Linked DNA regions of Homo sapiens. The protein of the gene in region 2 purifies or fractionates together with the protein of the main gene of each other region. This does not show direct contact. Each region holds a gene or a part of one and is shown on either strand. Other genes may lie near its edges.

Region 1 (3,716 bases), on a different chromosome or scaffold from region 2:
GCAATACCAGGTCCAAAGGAGGGCTCAATGCAAGTCTATTTTCATTTGCTGTCCTAGTAGGTATCTTGTACTATATGGCAGAGGACAGTACGTTTTGCATATATTCACCAACAGCTTTATTATGTATTGTATATGCTTCATATTAAGACTAATAACTTAGATTTCTTTCCCCCTGCTTCATCCCAAGAGACTTTAGTGTTCTCTAAGTATCGTAATTTTTGCTTTCTAAAAACTCATATATTATTAAGCATGAGCTTTAAAGTATGGCTTAAACTTCAGTTGTAACGAATCTCATAAAATGCTAGCATGCTGAACTTTGACTCTACAGTCAGCTCACTATTGAGTTAGTCTTTCCACTAAAGACAGTTATCTAGTGGGTTTTACCTTGTTTTAGAGTAACTTAGGAAGCAGGGACAGTCATGCCCTAAAGTGAAACCAGTAGAAAACTGGCCTGTTTCATTTATTACCAACATGAGTTTGATTATACTACTGTGACTCTAGCTTCTGAAACAGCAGTTGCTCAAAGTGGGAAGCCTTTTAAGTGATTTCATTCCATTTGGATATTCTCAGAATGATAGAGTTGTTTGCCTTTTCGAACTTGTTTTCACAAAGGTATTTAGGTAGAACTTTCTAACATCACTTACTAGTAATCAGGAAGGTCATTTGCCACATAAAAGGCAATACCTTATTTTATTCCCTGTAATACTTTGTGAGTGTTGGCATTTATTTTTTTTTTTTATTTTTATTGTTGAGACAGGGTCTTGCTCTGTCGCCCTGGCTGGAGTACAGTGGCATGATCACAGCTCACTGCAGCCTTGACCTGCCAGGCTCAGGTGATCCTACCACATCAGGCCCCCTGAATAACTGGGAATACAGGCATGCGCCACCATGCCTGGCTAATTTTTAAATTTTTTTGTGGGCCGGGTGCGGTGGCTCATGCCTGTAAACCCCAGCACCTTGAGAGGCCGAGGCAGGCGGATCACGAGGTCAAGAGATTGAGACCATCCTAGCTAACATGTTGAAACCCTGTCTCTACTAAAAGTGCAAAAATTAGCCAGGTGTGCTGGCATGCGCCTGTAGTCCCAACTACTTGAGAGGCTGAGGCAGGAGAATCGCTTGAACCCAGGAGGCGGAGGTTGCAGTGAGCCAAGATGGCGCCACTACACTCCAGCCTGGCAACAGACAGAGACTCAGTCTAAAGAAAAAAAAAAAATTGTGGAGACAGATGGAGTGTCACTATGTTGCCCAGGCTAGTGTCACACTCCTGGGCTCAAGCAATCCTCCGCCTTGGCCTCCCAAAGCACTGGGATTTACAGGCATGAGCCACTGCGGTCAGCCTGATGCTTGGCATTTAAATGCCCACAGTTCAGCAGCAAGTGGTGAAGAATGGTGGTAATTCCAGTGATTTGAGTAGCTGAGCCATTCTTCTATTAAGTAACTTTGGATAAAACATCATTTCACTCTCTTAGAGAAAGTTATCATCTGTTATCCTTACAGTCAGGTAGTGGCTGTTATGGGATAAGTGTCTGTTTTTGAAAATGATCAAACTAAGACATACTTTCTGGATTCTGCAGTCACATGTGACTTAGGAGCCAAACCTTTTATCTGAAAACAAAATGAAGCCACAAAACCCAGACCTTTTGATAAGATAGCATAAAACCTTCTTGAGTTACTTTTAATCTCATGGGATCAGTCAGGCTATAGATTTTTGGTGGTTATTTCTTTACCCAATTTATTTTTCTATTCTCTAGAATAATAAATTTGTTGAAATGCCCTTTGCTCTCACTTGTCTGCTCTTACAGCTTTCCAATTGTAGCTTCCTGTTGTACCACCACACCCCAACTCCTTACCTCTTGTCTCTTTGGCAGTGTAGACTTCTCTCTGTCATAGGTCATAGCCCTGATCACCCTATAATCGTCTGTTTGCCTGTTTCCCTATTAGACTGTGACATCCTGGAGGGTAGGGGTTACATCTTTTGTTTTTTTTAAGACAGAGTCTCGCTCTGTCGCCAGGCTGGAGTGCAGTGGCACCATCTCAGCTCTCTGCAACCTCCGACTTCCTGGTTCAAGCGATTCTCCTGCCTCAGCCTCCCAAGTAGCTGGGATTACAGGCATGCGCCACCATGCCCAGCTAATTTTTGTATTTTTAGTAGAGATGGAGTTTCACCATGTTGGCTAGGGTGGTCTCGATCTCCTGACCTCGTGATCCGCTCGCCTCAGCCTCCCAAAGGGCTGGGATTACAGATGTGAGCCACCGTGCCCCGCCAAATTTTTGTATTTTTAGTAGAGATAGGGTTTCACCATGTTTGCCAGGCTAGTCTCGAACTCCTGACCTCAAGTGATCAGGGGTTACAACTTTTAACACCATATCCTCATTGTGCCCCTAAGTACTCCAAACCTAGGATTTCAGTTTATTGTTCTTTACACCCTAACTCTATCATTTAGCCCATGCCTAGTACATGGTAGGTGTTCTAAATAAACATTTGCTAATTGAAAGAATGTTGCCTTAATCCTAAAACTTTTATACTTTCAGACCCGTAAGAAACAGAAGGAAGATGTGGAAGTTGTAGGAGGCAGTGATGGAGAAGGAGCCATTGGGCTTAGCAGTGATCCCAAGAGCCGGGAACAAATGATCAATGATCGGATTGGTTATAAACCCCAACCCAAGCCCAATAATCGTTCATCTCAATTTGGAAGTCTTGAATTTTAGAGATGGATTATCTTGCATGCCAGAGCGCTGGAATGGAATAAAATGATGGCAGAAGTACAAACCAGATTTAGAGAATTGAGTGCTTGCAGTCAAGCAGAATGTACCTCCTGCAGAGACAAATCTTCTGCATGAGATTACTGATGCTTCACTTGCACTCTAAGCTGGAATCCAAACTCTGGTTTGTCTCTTGAAAATTTGACTCTATAAAACTGATCTGATTTTCTGTTTTTAAAAATAAATATATTTTTGGAAAAATGTGAGGCATCCTTAATGAAGTATAACAGTACTGTTAATTCCCAGACTTTAAAAGATAATTGCTACAAGATTAACATCATTCTTTCCATCTTTATTAAAAGACCCTAAGCACAGGACACTCTAGTTGATCCCTGCCACTTTCACTTAACCCATCTATTCAATAAGTATTTATTGAGTGTCTACCATGTGCCACTCAACAAAGATCCCTGCCCTTGTAGAAATTAAATTCTAGTGGATATTGTGTAAATCTGAAGAAATTGTAGGTACCCGATCTCTTTACAGAATGGCTTTGTAACTAGTTTGGGTATAATGTTGGGAGGACAGGCAATGGAGGAAAGAGGAATGCTTCTAACAGTTTTGCCATTATTCCAACTTTCCTTCCTTTCTCAACTTGCCTAAGTGTTTTTCCCAGAAAGAACCAGAGAGGCAGCTCGGAGGATAATTTTGAATCATGCCCTATTGTTCTGGGCATTAAAAAAAAATTTTTTTTAAAAATTTTTATTGTTTTATGTAGAGACAGGCATCTGTGTTGCCCAAGCTGGGCTTGAGCTCCTGACATTAAGCAGTCCTCTCAAAGTGCTGGGATTACTGTGCCTGGCCTGTTTTCACTAATTCAACACAGGGAATCACCAGCTGTGATCATAAGAGCCTCTTGAATCATCAGTTCTACGGAGACTCTTAGCAGGACTTTAGCCTTTTTGGGGTAGTTTAAGTCTGAGTAATACGAGGGGGAGAGGGACAGGTGTGGTGGC
Region 2 (3,860 bases):
ATATTTACTGAGCTTCTACCATGAGAAAGACACTTATGATTGGTACTGTGGTGGATGCAGAGATGAGCAGGCGTGCTATGGCTGATGTCCAGATAGAATTTCCCATCTAATGTGATCTTGACCATACCACACAAAGTGTGGTAAATACCACAAAACATGCATACATGGTTATAGGAGCCATCAGTTAACATCGCTACCTTAGTACGAGTGCATTATTCTGATATTTGTTACTATTTGGTTTTGAAGGAATCTCACATCACATACATTTAAAAATCTTTTGGTATTAGTATGCAAAACATTCAACATTAATTTTTAACAACAAGATCACTTAGATACAACTTTAGAATGGAAATATTATTGCTCCTTAAATATCTTAAGCTTCTAATGGTGTTTTTATTTGTTCATCATATGTCAGGAATAAAATAAGACATTTTAATTATTAATGGATCATCTTTAGATTCTTACGTAGTTATATATTTAATCTTCTCAGACACGAAGCTTAAATACTCATTAAGAGCTTACTAAATACGTGCCTTCAAGATTTTGTTGCACTAATAAAATGCTTTCTTTCATTGTGAAAATAATATATGTGTATTTAACATCACTTAATATACCAGTATATTTTTAATAATACCAAGAAAGACTTCAGAGGGCTGTAAAAAACTCCTGAAATGCTAAGAAATATCATGCATGTTTTGTAAATGTTCACATATTAGTACTCTCTTTATCATACCCAAGTGATGTGTTAAATAGAAAAAAACTTAAGATCATTCGAATGTATAGACTTACAATGATTTTATATTTAATATTTATATAAGAAAAAGGAAAGAATGTATGCTGATGATTCCTATTTTACCAAACACCATGATTTCCATTGAAAAATACTTTTTCTGTACAACAGTGACTAAATGTGAAGAAAATAAACATGAATAATTTGTGCACTTGCATTTGTATAATTTTATATCTGATCTCATCATTATAGACATTTTGTTCAAAATAATAAAGTCTGTTGTATCCAGCAAAGAAAAAAGGAAAAAAACAAAAGATCTGTACTTACAACAAATTAACAAATTAATAAGAATGCAAATAATTCATCAGATTTAAATTGAGTTTTTAGGATGTGTTTATAAACTTTTTTTAAATTGTTGTTTTTCTTTGAAGATTGAAAGTATTTGCAGGAATACTCGATACCATTTTAGGTAAAATATTAACACAAGAAAGCAAATGACCCTTAGGTTATTAATATTGATTTTATCTCTAAGACAAGAAGATAAAAGGAATTTTGAGGAAATATCCCTGATTAGGTAAATAAAAATTTCTCCTTTTTGGTTAGAAAAATCTCAAACAAAATTATATCAGAAGTGGAAAATTATCCAGTGAAATTAGATTGTGAAAGCAGTCAATCTAAGTTAAAACTGCATGGAAAATTTTTTTTTAAATTCTTTAAAATTTCTATGGGTTTAAAATCCAAAGGCAGATTCCTAACTGGATTCAGTGAACCCCTCCACTTTCACCTTTCCAAATTTTATTTGTTTCATTTGCATGCTCAGCCTTATGAAAAGTCGTGATAAGAAATTGGAGATGACCTTATTATAATAAGGAAGTTATGATGTCAAAGCAAGCATATTTTGGTCCACAAAAGTTCATTTGCTTAATGAAATCACAGAAGCTTCTTTTTATCATTACATCAAATTGTTTTCCCAGGCTTGCGTAATGGAATGTGAAGGTAAACTGCCTTCTCTGAAAATTTGGGAAACCTGCAAGGAGCTCCTGCAGCTGTCCAAACCAGAGCTTCCTCAAGATGGCACCAGCACCCTCAGAGAAAATAGCAAACCGGAAGAAAGCCATTTGCTAGCCAAAAGGTATGGGGGCTTCATGAAAAGGTATGGAGGCTTCATGAAGAAAATGGATGAGCTTTATCCCATGGAGCCAGAAGAAGAGGCCAATGGAAGTGAGATCCTCGCCAAGCGGTATGGGGGCTTCATGAAGAAGGATGCAGAGGAGGACGACTCGCTGGCCAATTCCTCAGACCTGCTAAAAGAGCTTCTGGAAACAGGGGACAACCGAGAGCGTAGCCACCACCAGGATGGCAGTGATAATGAGGAAGAAGTGAGCAAGAGATATGGGGGCTTCATGAGAGGCTTAAAGAGAAGCCCCCAACTGGAAGATGAAGCCAAAGAGCTGCAGAAGCGATATGGGGGCTTCATGAGAAGAGTAGGTCGCCCAGAGTGGTGGATGGACTACCAGAAACGGTATGGAGGTTTCCTGAAGCGCTTTGCCGAGGCTCTGCCCTCCGACGAAGAAGGCGAAAGTTACTCCAAAGAAGTTCCTGAAATGGAAAAAAGATACGGAGGATTTATGAGATTTTAATATCTTTTCCCACTAGTGGCCCCAGGCCCCAGCAAGCCTCCCTCCATCCTCCAGTGGGAAACTGTTGATGGTGTTTTATTGTCATGTGTTGCTTGCCTTGTATAGTTGACTTCATTGTCTGGATAACTATACAACCTGAAAACTGTCATTTCAGGTTCTGTGCTCTTTTTGGAGTCTTTAAGCTCAGTATTAGTCTATTGCAGCTATCTCGTTTTCATGCTAAAATAGTTTTTGTTATCTTGTCTCTTATTTTTGACAAACATCAATAAATGCTTACTTGTATATAGAGATAATAAACCTATTACCCCAAGTGCATAATATCCTTGTAAGTCTCTTTTTCTCCAAGGCTCTCATTTACCTTTGGGTTTCCGCATCAATCCTAGACTCAGGGACAGTAGAACCATCTGCTTTTGACATAATTTTGACATCATAATCATTGTCTTTCTTCTCCTTCAGCCAAGGCTCAAAAACATTTTTTATTTAATTCCTCACAGCATGAAATCTTAGATTAGTAAACACGTGGGAGCAAAATAAAATGTATTTTCACTCTCATTTCTGGAAATCAGATACATGAAGAAAAACCAAAGCCTAATAAAGGAGCCAGCTATGCCCCCATTAAACACACACACACACACACACACACACATACTTGCATTTACATCAGATGTGTATGTCTCTTTTCTTCAGTAAAGTATTTTAGAAGTTAGTAAGAAATTAAAGATAATTTAGTCCAATTTTACAAATGAAGAAAGGGAAGCCAAGAAAGGTTGTGTAGTTGGCCCAAAGTTGCCCAGCAGTTGAAGGACAAAAATAGGATTAAAACCCCAAACTTTTTGTGCCCAGTCAATATCCTTTTCACTGCGGTTCCTTATCTCCTATCCACGTCACTAGTAAGAATTGTAAGAACGTGGAACTACATCTTAGTCACCATTGTACACCTCTACACTATGACTGTAGCAGATTCTCCAATATCGGATGAATGGATATATGAATGATGAATAAATTAATTTGGTGACCAGATAATGAGGAAAGATATTGTGAGTGTTTTGTAAGGTAAATCCCCAAAACACAAGGTGCTTATGACTACTTCATATTAATGAGACAATGCTCAGATATAAGAAATGTAACTTTTCATTTTTCTTATTATTATTATTATACTTTAAGTTTTAGGGTACATGTGCACAGCATGCAGGTTTGTTACGTATGTAAACATGTGCCATTAACTCGTCATTCTGGTTTCTCTTCAGATCGTGCAAATCTTTCGCCTTTAACTTTTCATTTTTCTAACTGAAACAACATACGGCTTAACCCCTACTCACTAAATCATTTTTCCAGGACCCCCACCAACCCTTTCTCTTGTGTTTCTCAAAACATTGGAATTTAGCAACTCTGGAAAGTGGGGGACGAGTCTCTGGTCTGCAGTCTACCAAGGCTGCTGCCGAGATGCTCACTGTGCAAGCCTGTGTGCCCCATCTGATAAGGCAGCTGCA

What was found.
Region 1: the proteins of PENK (region 2) and CDC26 purify together in Homo sapiens (affinity purification with mass spectrometry; 3 studies listed by BioGRID and IntAct, with this or other methods). This does not show direct contact.

The regions. Positions count from the first base shown.
Region 1 is NC_000009.12:113,266,256-113,269,971, reverse strand, and holds the end of CDC26 (anaphase-promoting complex subunit CDC26), read left to right. Parts: intron 1-2,532; coding exon 2,533-2,709; 3' UTR 2,710-2,980; downstream 2,981-3,716. UniProt on the Homo sapiens protein: Component of the anaphase promoting complex/cyclosome (APC/C), a cell cycle-regulated E3 ubiquitin ligase that controls progression through mitosis and the G1 phase of the cell cycle.
Region 2 is NC_000008.11:56,439,782-56,443,641, reverse strand, and holds the end of PENK (proenkephalin-A preproprotein), read left to right. Parts: intron 1-1,704; coding exon 1,705-2,370; 3' UTR 2,371-2,685; downstream 2,686-3,860.